2 linked regions of the Homo sapiens genome follow. The protein of the gene in region 2 purifies or fractionates together with the protein of the main gene of each other region. This does not show direct contact. Each region holds a gene or a part of one and is shown on either strand. Other genes may lie near its edges.

What was found. The genes of interacting proteins can lie anywhere in the genome.
Region 1: the proteins of DOK3 (region 2) and TPP2 purify together in Homo sapiens (affinity purification with mass spectrometry; 4 studies listed by BioGRID and IntAct, with this or other methods). This does not show direct contact.

The regions. Positions count from the first base shown.
Region 1 is NC_000013.11:102,634,975-102,642,005, forward strand, and holds part of TPP2 (tripeptidyl-peptidase 2), read left to right. Parts: intron 1-612; coding exon 613-728; intron 729-1,249; coding exon 1,250-1,418; intron 1,419-2,107; coding exon 2,108-2,265; intron 2,266-3,264; coding exon 3,265-3,341; intron 3,342-5,295; coding exon 5,296-5,402; intron 5,403-7,031. UniProt on the Homo sapiens protein: Cytosolic tripeptidyl-peptidase that releases N-terminal tripeptides from polypeptides and is a component of the proteolytic cascade acting downstream of the 26S proteasome in the ubiquitin-proteasome pathway.
Region 2 is NC_000005.10:177,501,373-177,506,826, reverse strand, and holds the end of DOK3 (docking protein 3), read left to right. Parts: intron 1-1,716; coding exon 1,717-1,816; intron 1,817-1,911; coding exon 1,912-2,084; intron 2,085-2,166; coding exon 2,167-2,844; 3' UTR 2,845-3,434; coding exon of another isoform or gene 3,435-3,782; 3' UTR 3,783-4,923; downstream 4,924-5,454. UniProt on the Homo sapiens protein: DOK proteins are enzymatically inert adaptor or scaffolding proteins. They provide a docking platform for the assembly of multimolecular signaling complexes. DOK3 is a negative regulator of JNK signaling in B-cells through interaction with INPP5D/SHIP1.

The sequences.
Region 1 (7,031 bases), on a different chromosome or scaffold from region 2:
ATCAATGTTTATGTGTTTAATGAGCTCTGGAGAGGACAAGAATGATACAGCACTCATCTTATGAATTGGTGGCCTCCATATTCTTCCCATAAAACAGTAATTCCCAACCTGGCTGTACCCTAGAATCATCTGAGAGTTGTTTAATAAATAACAATCTCTGGGACAGTCCTCAGAGATTCTGATTTAATTGGTCTGTCATGAGACCTCAGCATCTTTTTTGCTTGAGTTCCCCTGGGGTTTATAACATACAGTTGGGTTGAACACCACAGCCAACAGCCATCTTGTTTAACCCAGCAGTGTTTGAAAGAAAATGTCATTCACATGCTTTTAGATATCTGCTTTGTACGTTTATATTACGCCACAAAGCCCACACCAGTCTCTCTGCCCACCACATAATGAGAACACAGTGATTTTTGTGGAATGAAGCCTTCATGTAATGCAAGCAGTTTGAGTCAGACTGTTTAGTTCAGGTCTTCAAAAAAGATTTTAAAATGAGTGTTAGAACACAAGACATTAACACCAGAGGGTCTACAGGTGATCGATCATACTGGTGGGCGGCTAAGGTTTCAGATAGTGAGTGCTACACTACTTGTTTTTGTTTCTTAATTTTAGGTCTGAAAGCTAATAACATTGACTACACAGTTCATTCAGTCAGAAGAGCTCTAGAAAACACTGCAGTGAAGGCTGACAATATAGAAGTATTTGCTCAAGGACATGGTATTATTCAGGTATTGTTGCCTATATGAAAAATGGGTTGTAAAGCATCATTGAGATAATATCTTAGATATTATTGGGTAATATTTTGTTTTATAACAGTGATTCAGTATATCTGAATTATGGATTATATGGCCATAGAACTACAAGCAAAAAGGATACACAAACAAATTTTGTAGTTAAGACAAATCTGTTGCACTAAGATCAAGAAATGTAATAGATGGAGGCCATGTAGAGGTTAGAAATTCAAAGAAATCGAGGTCAAAAACTGGCCAATCATAACGGCATAGGGATTAGTTCCTAAATTTGGTCACTTGAGAATAACAGTGTGAATAGAGTGGAGTGGAAGATGTGACTGGTGTTGTTTCTAAAAATGTAGAATTGTCCTCTTAGTTGGGGTACTAGGTAGTTTTGAGAGGTGAATATAGACACTAACTTTTTGTTTTACAACTGAAATCAAATTGATTGGTAATTTGCAACAAAATATTTTTTGACCCAACCATTTATATCTTACCATGTATATTATTTTCACTAGGTTGATAAAGCCTATGACTACCTCGTTCAGAATACATCATTTGCTAATAAATTAGGTTTTACTGTTACTGTTGGAAATAACCGTGGCATCTACCTCCGAGATCCTGTTCAGGTGGCTGCACCTTCAGATCATGGCGTTGGCATTGAACCTGTATTTCCGGAGAACACAGGTCAGTAATAGGCTGGCAGTAAGCTGACGTATTCACATTTGCTGTTTGAATGAGTGGTATCATAATAAAGAATTGCTGTTTGGGCCAGTGTTGTGAAGAGAATACATGAATTGACAGTATGATTATTTTAAATCTTAGTCATAAGAGAAAATATTAGAGCAATTTGGGGTCCTTGTACAATGGCAATTTAGTTAGCATCTTAAACTACCAGGGAAAACAGTAGAATGAGCCTCAGTGACCCACAGCTTTATTAAATTGTGGATAATAAAATATCAAATTTCTTTTCCACTTTACCTACTTAGGTATAAGACAGAGCTTTCTGTTGAAGAATGAAAAGTAGAAGCAGTCTAGGAGAACTGCAGCTCGATTAGGTGTGAACAAAAATAATCATCGCTATTATCTGGCTGTCTTCATTTCAGTTGAATACTATGACCTGTGTGCAGTAATGAAAACATTCACTTAAACTCTTTATTTTAAGGTCATACCAGTGCTTGGTGAAAGTATAAATGAATCATGAGTAATCTAAATTGTAAGGAAGATTATTTGACTGTTTTATTTAAGCTGTGTTTTGGATGCATTTTACAGCCAACCAAACCAAGTCGCTAAATTTTTTTGGAAAGATGTAACATTTTTAAATGGAAAAAAGGAAAAAAATACTCATCTTTAATTTTTGGTCTTTTTCGTGCCAGAAAACTCTGAAAAAATATCCCTTCAGCTTCATTTAGCTCTGACTTCAAATTCATCTTGGGTTCAGTGTCCCAGCCATTTGGAACTCATGAATCAATGTAGACACATAAACATACGTGTGGATCCCAGGGGCTTAAGAGAAGGATTGCATTATACAGAGGTATTGATGTATCTTCATTTTTACTTTCTTCACTCTTTAAAATGTTTAAAAGGTTAAAAAAAAATCCAAAGTATATTTGCAATATATTGCTTTCTTGCTAAGAAATAACTAGACCTATCCATCTGCCAGGTTATTCAGTTCTTCTGGTGTGTCTATATTCATTTAAGCAGTGAGTTTCTAAAGAATCATATTTTGTCCTTGTATGAATAAGTAAAAGGAAAGAAGAGGTACAGCAGAACCTTTCAATTAGATCTCCCTCTAACTGGTGTTTTCTTTTGTCAGCTAAACAAAGCTGCAGTTGCTTGTTGTTGTTGTTGTTGTTGTTTTAAGAGACAGAGTCTTGCTCTGTTGCCCAGGCTGGAGTACAGTGGTGTGATCGTGGTTCGCTGCAGCCTTGAACTCTTGGGCTCAAGTGATATTCACACCTTAGCCTCCTGAGTAGCTAGGACTAGTGGCGTGCACCACCAAGCCTGGCTAAATTTTTTTATTTTTGTAGAGACAGGATCTCTCTATGTTGCCCAGTCTTGTCTTGAACTCTTGGCCTCAAGTGATCCTCCTGCCTTGGCCTCCCAGGGCTTTGGGATTACAGGTGTGAACCACCACACCCAGCCAGTTATACCTTTTAGTACTCAGATGAAGAAAGCATCTGTTAAACAAATAGTTGTAAACCAGGCATAGAATAGTATCACAACAGTATCTCCACATCTAAAGTTGTCTGTAGTACTAGTTTGAGCTAATTTTTCAGTTGGGAGTAATTAAAATGCACTTATTTTGTACCTGACGTCTCATTTTCCCATTTCAACTGGTCAAATGTTGCTATACATTTGTTTGGGCTGTTTGCTATTAATTATGTGACCTAGTGTCAGGAAATTGGTGTCAACCTCTGGTTAAGACCTTGATTAAAAGTAGATTGATTTATTCTGTCAGTAGTTTAGACCTTCCCCCGCTCTTTTAAACATTTGTTTATGGATATTGACACTTACCGATTCTTTTTTCAAGGTATGTGGCTATGATATAGCATCCCCTAACGCAGGTCCGCTCTTCAGAGTTCCGATCACTGCAGTTATAGCAGCAAAGTAAGTAACAGGTTACTCACAGCTTACTGGTACATCTAAGATTTTAATGACTATTCATGGAGTCTTGTGGACTTTTAATGATCACTAATACAGAACCAGGTAATGGGGATTTTGTCTTAGTTCTGCTCCCAGCTAGCATTTTTAGGTGTCATGTAGTCAGCCATACTGACTCTTGTGTGCTCTGAGAGTAACTGATGGCACCTGGCATCTGCCCTACCTCTGCATCAAAACTATTTCCACCACAGTCACTCTGAGCTCTGCATTGCCCAGTTCAGAGGATAACTCAGGCTTCGTCTGACCCGATCCCACTGTAGTATTTGACAATATTACTTCACTCCCCTCCATTCCTGCCCTTTTTGTCTCTGTCGTTTTTGGGATTTACTCTCTTCTCTTAATGCTTCCACTTTTCTAGTTATCTACTGTAGAAGCAGAAGTTAAGAAACTCTTAACTTCCCATCTTATTCCTCTGGAACCAAGGAAAAATCAGCAGATTATATTACTTCCTGCTTAAAGTATATCAGTGGCACCTCCAAAGGTCAAGTTCAAGCTCCTTAAAATAGCAAACAATGCTCCCTCACAATTATAGCCCTAGCCAGTGTTTCCTGTCATTCCGTACACCAAATTACACATTTTGGCCAACTCACTGATTTTGGCACTTGAGGATTCTCAGGATTTGTGCATGTGCACAGCTGATAACTTGGTTTCAATTTCCTGTCTCTTCAGTTAATGACCAGGTGCATTCCTGGTCATCCCTGGGTGAAGGGAGTCCCTTCTTTCTGCTTCGTGGCACATTTTACGTGCCCCTGGACAGACTTTAGCCAATATATTGTAATTTTTTATTTAACTTACACTCTTTCACTGTGAGCCCACCGAAGGCACAGAGACTACTGTTATACAGGATGTATAAAATAAATTATCTAGTGGATGAAGGTGAGATTGGGATTGTGAGAGTACTGGAAACCAAGTGGAAATTCTAAACTAACAGTTCTGTTACTCTGGTAAATATTAAGTATGCAATAGATCTCAGCCCATGAGAAACACAGGATGAAATTGAGGAGAATAAATTTAAAAAGTGGTATACATGTGGAAAAATTGTGCAACAGTTAAATTCTCAGCCGTATATTCCCTCGAAGTCCAGTAGTAATTTAGACCAGGTAATGTGTAAGACCTTCAGGAGTCAGCTGCCACGCCATCTCCTTCAGGAAGCTTCCCAGGCTCCGTAACTCTTCTTGTCTATCTGGAGCATCTTATGTTAAATGTCTCTGATGATGATTCTCTCCATGCTAGATTGTCTAGGTTAAAGAATCATATTTTCTTCTTTGTTACGTTTCTAGCTCCTAATAACAGGGCCTCATGTAGTAGGCACTCATTTAACCGTTTGTCCTACTGACAAGAATTTGTCTCTAGCATAAAATTTGTTTCCGTGGTGGGTAGTTATGCATTTGAACTTTATTTCATTGATTTCTTACAAAAGTGCTTTGAAAGTAGTTTGCCTTTCTTTACTGTTTTACATCATGGGAGTGTTTTGAAGCTACAGGAGGAGCTTAATTTAACACAAGTCTCATAGCTATAATACCAGTGACATAAAACTTTATCATTGATTTTAATATCTAGGACTCACTGTAGTTTGGAATCTGGTAATTGGAAAATTCTGTGAATGTTGTAGAATGCCTTTAACAAAAAAGAGAATGCTTTTTTAATAGTGTGTGTGAATGTATCTTACAAATCATAAAATAGGCAAAAAGTAGAATCATCTATACTCTGCTATTCAGAGGTTATCTCTGCTAACCTACTGCAAAAATTGAACAATATCGTACCTACTGTTTTGTAACCAGCTTCTAAGTCCCTGTGTTTATTTCCAATGAATTGTTATTTTGCGTTTATCCAATGAAATCTAGAGTATCTGTGGTCTTATAATAAATATATACATTTAATTACTTTTATTAATTTTCAGAGTAAATGAATCATCACATTATGATCTAGCCTTTACAGATGTACACTTTAAACCTGGTCAAATTCGAAGGCATTTTATTGAGGTTCCTGAGGGTGCAACATGGGCTGGTAGGTAAAATTAAAATCTGTGTGACCGCTTATCTCTGTTTACGTTCTAATGACTATAGCTGTATGAGGTTCGTTTATCTGTAGCATGTATTTCCCTGGTACTAATATATGTATTTGGGTACCTTAGACTTTCTGTAAAGTTCAAAACGTTTTTAAGATCTAGTACAATTTTGCATTGGCCCATACAGGAAATTAAGCCATCTTAAGATGTTTTTAATATTTAAGGTTTGAGCTTAGTTTAGAATAATGCCTTACCTGGTAATAATTTTTTTTTTTTTTTTTTTTTTTTTTTTGAGACAGAGTCTCACTCTGTCGCCAGGCTGGAGTGCAGTGGCATGATCTCGGCTCACTGCAACCTCCACCTCCCCAGTTCAAACGATTCTCCTTCCTCAGCCTCCCGAGTAGCTTGGACTAGCAGGCGTGTGCTACCACGCCAGGCTATTTTTTGTATTTTTAGTAGACACGAGGTTTCACCATGTTGGCTAGGATGGTCTCGATCTCTTGACCTCGTGATACACTCGCCTCGTCCTCCCAAAGTGCTGGGATTACAGGCATGAGCAACTGTGCCCGGCCTAATTTTTAAAATACTACAAATCAGTTTAAACAATGCAGCTGTTGCTTAAACCTCAAACTGTTAAACTCTCAGAATTTTAGAAATAGAGCTTTAATCTTTGAAGCTCTGTTTATAGAAGATTTTCACTTCAGTGTCTCTGAAATTTTGAGAGTAAATGATTGCCTAACACAAAGCTCTTGAATTAACATGTTATAGTCCTGTGAGAGTGCTCATGTCATTCTTTTTTACAAGAGCTGTGGGTGTACCATATTTTCCTTCACAAGTTGTGTGTCCTAAATTTACAATTTAGCAGTCAGTATAGAAGGGTATGTCAGTTGTCAGAGCTCACTCCCATTGATAGAAGGAAGCAAATACGGGCAGTCAAGAAAGTGTCACCCAATTTAAATTAGTAGCCAGCATTGTTGATACTTCTTGGATTTGGCCCCTCTGCTAAGCACTTTACAGAGATTATCTTGTCTAGTCCCGTCAGAACCCTATAAGGTAGATAGGTGTCATTAGTAAAAATGGCTTGTATTTTACTTAGGAGTGTGTTTTTTGTACTTGTATGAAAGTACAGATATATTTACATCTGAGACTTTATTGAAAATGAAATATTGAAATCACACATGTATGACTTGGTTTGGGAATAACTGGTTGTATTTGGTTCCCCATACCATTTTCTGGTCATCTATCTGTATGCTGTCCATCTGTTTGTCACCTGGTATCACAGGAAATACCAGACTTTTCTTGTTTTTTGTAATTAGGTAAAGGCAAAATAATAGCAAAAGCTGAGAGCTAAAGCAGTGAATTGAACAGCACCCAATATAGCCTGTTAATTTGCACACTGGTTTATAATGGAGCTATTGCAGCAGTGAGAGGCTTCTGAGGATAATCGGGTTGTACTACACTCATTCATTAAGCATATTTTTCTGTACCATCTGTGCCAGGCCCTTTTCAGTGGGCTAAGGTGGTGAGCTACTTAGACAAGGACCCTGCTTCCAGAGGCCTTGAGAGCATCTAGTCCAAGATATTGCAGTTAAGAGAACTGGATTAGAGGGAGGCAGCACAGAGTAGCG
Region 2 (5,454 bases):
TGCCAGCTACTCGGGAGGCTGAGGCAGGCAGAATTGCTTGAACCTGGGAGGCAGAGGTTGCGGTGAGCCGAGATCATGCCATTGCACTCCAGCCTGGGCAACGAGAGCAAAACTCCGTCTCAAAAAAAAAAAAAAAAAAAAGAAAAGAAAAAAAAGAGCACTGATGATACACTTTAAGATGTAAAATGGGCCGGGCGTAGTGGTTCACACCTGTAATCCCAGCACTTTGGGAGGCCGAGGCAGGCGGATTACCTGAGGTCAGGAGTTCGAGACCAGCCTGGCCAACATGGTGAAACCCTATCTCTACTAAAAAAAAATTACAAAAATTAGCTGGGTGTGGTGGCACACGCCTGTAATCCCAGCTACTACTTGAGAGGCTGAGGCAGCAGAATTGCTTGAGTCTGGGAGGCAGAGGTTGCAGTGAGCTTAGATCGCACCACTGCATTCCAGCCTGGCCGACAGAGCAAGACTTTGTCTCAAAAAAAAAAAAAAAAGTAAGATGGTTAAAACAGTAAATTTTATGTTCTCTGTATTTTATCATATTTTAAAAATCAAAAAACAAAAGGCAGTTGAGGTTAGGCATGGAGGTTCGTGCCTGTAATCCCAGCACTTTGGGAAGCCGAAGCACGTGGATCACCTGAGGTCAGGAGTTCGAGACCAGCCTGCCCAATATGGTAAAACCCTGTCTCTACTAAAAATACAAAAAATTAGCCAGGCATGGTGGTGGGCACCTGTAATCCCAGCTACTTGGGAGACTGAGGCAGGAGAATCACTTAAACCCGGGAGGCGGGCTGGGCGCGGTGGCTCATGCCTGTAATCCCAGCACTTTGGGAGGCCGAGACAGGCGGATCATGAGGTCAGGAGATCGAGATCATCCTGGCTAACATGGTGAAACCCCATCTCTACTAAAAATACAAAAAAAATTAGCCAGGCCTGGTGGCGGGCACCTGTAGTCCCAGCTACTTGGGAGGCTGAGGCAGGAGAATGGCGTGAACCTGGGAGGCGGAGCTTGCAGTGAGCCAAGATCGCGCCACTGCACTCCAGCCTGGGCGACAAGAGTGAGACTCCATCTTAAAGAAAAAAAACAAACCCGGGAGGCGGAAATTGCAGTCAGCCGAGATCTCGCCATTGCACTCAAGTATGGGTGACAGAGCAAGACTCCATGTCAAAAAAAAAGGCAGTTGACAGGAGCAAGGAGCCTGGTGAGGAAGCTGTGGCATTTGACCCGGCTGTGTTGCTATGGGCCAGGGTGGTGCTAGTAGAGGAGCTGAGTGGGAAAGAGCACAGGGGACATGCTGAAGGCCTGGGTGTGGGGATGAGGCAGAGATTGGGGGCACCTTGCAGGGTCATAGCAGGTGGCTGTGGTGAGATGGAGGAAGACACCTGGGGTACTGCTCTAGGCTGTCAGACATACAGAAGCTGGCCCAGCCAAGCCCAGGGGCTGCAAGGGACATCCTTTTGTGTCCCCAGTGATCTGCAGCTCTCAGACACCCTCAAGCACAGTGCCTCTTGCCCAGCCCAGCACTCTCAGTGGGGAGCCAGGTGGGAGAACAGGCTCGGAAGGGGACCTAGGCTTATGCAGCGAGCCGGGCAAAGCTGGAACTGGAGCCCAGGCCCCTGGATGCCCCCTGGCTTGTGGAGTTCTGGGATACTGAGGGGAGGGGACAGGGCATGGGAGTGCGGTGCTCTCACCTTTGACTTGAACTCATTCCCCAGGGGACAGGGGAGGCCTCCTCAGGATCCACAGATGCCCAGTCTCCCAAGAGGGGCCTGGTCCCCATGGAGGAAAACTCCATCTACTCCTCCTGGCAGGAAGGTAAGTTGGAGGACGTGCAAGGGCAGCCTCAGCCCCCCACACCCAGGGCTGGGTCTTTTTGGGACTGACGGAGCTGTCCTGGCCACCTGCCACAGTGGGCGAGTTTCCCGTGGTGGTGCAGAGGACTGAGGCCGCCACCCGCTGCCAGCTGAAGGGGCCGGCCCTGCTGGTGCTGGGCCCAGACGCCATCCAGCTGAGGGAGGCCAAGGGCACCCAGGCCCTCTACAGCTGGCCCTACCACTTCCTGCGCAAGTTCGGCTCCGACAAGGTGAGGTGCAGGGGTGGGAAAGGGTGAGGGGCTGACACCCTGGACCCTCCTGCTAATCCCCACCCGTGTGCCCTGTGCCCAGGGCGTGTTCTCCTTTGAGGCCGGCCGTCGCTGCCACTCGGGTGAGGGCCTCTTTGCCTTCAGCACCCCCTGTGCCCCTGACCTGTGCAGGGCTGTGGCCGGGGCCATCGCCCGCCAGCGGGAGCGGCTGCCAGAGCTGACCAGGCCCCAGCCCTGCCCCCTGCCACGGGCCACCTCTCTGCCCTCCCTGGACACCCCCGGAGAGCTTCGGGAGATGCCACCAGGACCTGAGCCACCCACGTCCAGGAAAATGCACCTGGCCGAGCCCGGACCCCAGAGCCTGCCGCTACTGCTAGGCCCGGAGCCCAACGATCTGGCGTCCGGGCTCTACGCTTCAGTGTGCAAGCGTGCCAGTGGGCCCCCAGGCAATGAGCACCTCTATGAGAACCTGTGTGTGCTGGAGGCCAGCCCCACGCTGCACGGTGGGGAACCTGAGCCGCACGAGGGCCCCGGCAGCCGCAGCCCCACAACCAGTCCCATCTACCACAACGGCCAGGACTTGAGCTGGCCCGGCCCGGCCAACGACAGTACCCTGGAGGCCCAGTACCGGCGGCTGCTGGAGCTGGATCAGGTGGAGGGCACAGGCCGCCCTGACCCTCAGGCAGGTTTCAAGGCCAAGCTGGTGACCCTGCTGAGTCGTGAGCGGAGGAAGGGCCCAGCCCCTTGTGACCGGCCCTGAACGCCCAGCAGAGTGGTGGCCAGAGGGGAGAGGTGCTCCCCCTGGGACAGGAGGGTGGGCTGGTGGGCAAACATTGGGCCCATGCAGACACACGCCTGTGTCCACCCTGGCCTGCAGGAACAAGGCAGGCCGCCTGTGGAGGACCTCAGCCCTGCCCTGCCCTCCTCATGAATAGTGTGCAGACTCACAGATAATAAAGCTCAGAGCAGCTCCCGGCAGGGGCACTCACGGCACACGCCCCTGCCCACGTTCATTGCGGCCAACACAAGCACCCTGTGCCGGTTCCAGGGGCACAGGTGACCTGGGCCTTACCTGCCACCCGTGGGCTCAAACCCACTGCAGCAGACAGACGGGATGGAAATCATTAGGACTCCATGTTGCTCTGCACGGCCGAGTGACACGAAGAGGCAGGCGGAGGGAGCTGTGAGGCTTACTTGTCAGACTCAGGAAGGAGCAACATGAGGGCCCAACTGGAGACCCGGAGGCCCGAGCTGGGAGGAGGCAGTGGGGGCGGGGTGCAGGTGGAAGGGATTTCAGAGACACCCTCGTCCAAAACACTTGTTCCCTGCTGAAACTCCAACAATTTGCAGATACTTCTGGGAACCCCAGGCGTCAGTCTCCTCATCTGTAAAGGAGAGAGAACCGATGACGTATCAGGCATAATCCTTGATGAGAGTTTGCTGCGTGCCTACTCAGTGCCAGGCGCTGGGGGACACAGCCGTGTTCAGGACAGCCTTGGTCCTGTTCTCCGGGAGCCGACATTCCAGGGGGAGAGAAGTTTCCTGAAGACTTCCATGCTGCGTTCCCTCCTCTGCTCCTGCTCCTGGCGCCATCCTAGGAGCCAGCCACGCACGCAAGCGTCATGCCTCCAGGGCTCTGACTGCCCAGCCCCTCACCGCAACTCCACCTCAGCTGCACACACCCTTGGCACATCCTGAACCTCATTTTCATGACGGACACACAATTTTTGCTCTCTCCTGTCCAAGCCTCATCCTCTGGCCGCCACCTCCTTCCAGCTCACTTCCTTTAGTGCGGCCAGTACCGCCCCTGCCTAGGCATGTCGACCTGCAGGGACCCTTTTCTGGCTCTTCGAGGCCTCTGCCCACCATCCCCTCTTTGTTCTCCATAGTCCCTTCCCCCTGTTCTCTCTCGTTTCATCTTACTGGTCTGGCAAAGTCCCCGGCCTTGGGCGAGCCCAGACCTCCTCAGTGCCTGCACACAGCTGCCCACAGCCAGAGAAATCCATTTAAGCAGACTGCCTGCATCCTTCTTAACAGTGCAAGGCAGGCACTCCCTGCCACAAGAGACCCTGTTCCCTAGTAGGGCAGCTTTTCTCCTCCCCAGAACCTCCTGTCTATCCCCACCCAATGTCTCCTCACAGGCATATTGGGGAAACAGGTCGGGCTCTCCCACCGTATCTGCAAGTGTACTGGCATCCATCTGTCTTCTTCCTACCCCTACAGTAGAAACAGTGTCTGTCCCCAGCTGTGCTCTGATCCCGGCTCCTTTCACCTCAGAGCTTGGAAAATTGAGCTGTCCCCACTCTCTCCTGCGCCCATTCATCCTACCAGCAGCTTTTCCAGCCACACGCAAACATGCTCTGTAATTTCACATTTTAAACCTTCCCTTGACCTCACATTCCTCTTCGGCCACCTCTGTTTCTCTGTTCCTCTTCACAGCAAAAACTGTTCAAAAGAGTTGTTGATTACTTTCATTTCCACTTTCTCACCCCCATTCTCCCCTCAATTAACTCTCCTTCATCCCCATGATGCCATTATGTGGCTTTTATTAGAGTCACCAACCTTATTCTCCAAAACAAAAGCAACAAGGACTTTGACTTCTCAGCAGCACTCGGCTCTGGTTCTTGAAACACCCCCGTTACTTGCTATTCCTCCTACCTCATAACAATCTCCTTCCCAGCCTCTACTGCTGCCTTCTCTGAGTTCTTCCCAGGGTCCTAGGCTCAGATGTAGTGTAGCTCAACCCTGCTACACAAAGAATCTCCTGAAAGCCTGTAAAAATGTCCATGCATGTTCTGTGAGTGATCTACCAAGAAAATAAAAAATTTTAAAAATCAAATGCCCATGCCTGGGCCCACACGCAGGGGCTCTGATTTCATCAGTCTGGTAGGTGGGTTCTGGGCATCCACGCTCACTGGATTTCCGGATGATTGTAGTATGCAGCCTAGGCTGGGAACCACTGGCCTCAGCAAGCCAGTCATTCTCCAGGTGTCACAGACCCTCTAGGTGCTAATGACCCCGAAGGTCTGTCTTCAGTGCACACCTCCCCCTGAGCTCCAGATTTAGGAATCCCACTGCACACGAGACATCTGGATGTGGAAAAGACATCTCCAGATCCCATGGGTGAAAGGGGGTTGGGGGAATGGAGACTCTGGTGTTCTTCCAGGATGTGTGTGGACACAGAATGCAAAGCCTGGAGGGATGCTAGAGCCATAGGGAGGAAGATTTTGGCTCACTTATTCATGCAAGCACTTCCTGATGGGTAAGGTCTTAGAGCAAGCTGAGGCCAAGAGGCGGGCAGTCGAGGTGCTGCTGCAGGCACCCCCACTCCCTACAGTGGCAAGCCCAAGCCCAGCCCTTGGCAGCTCAA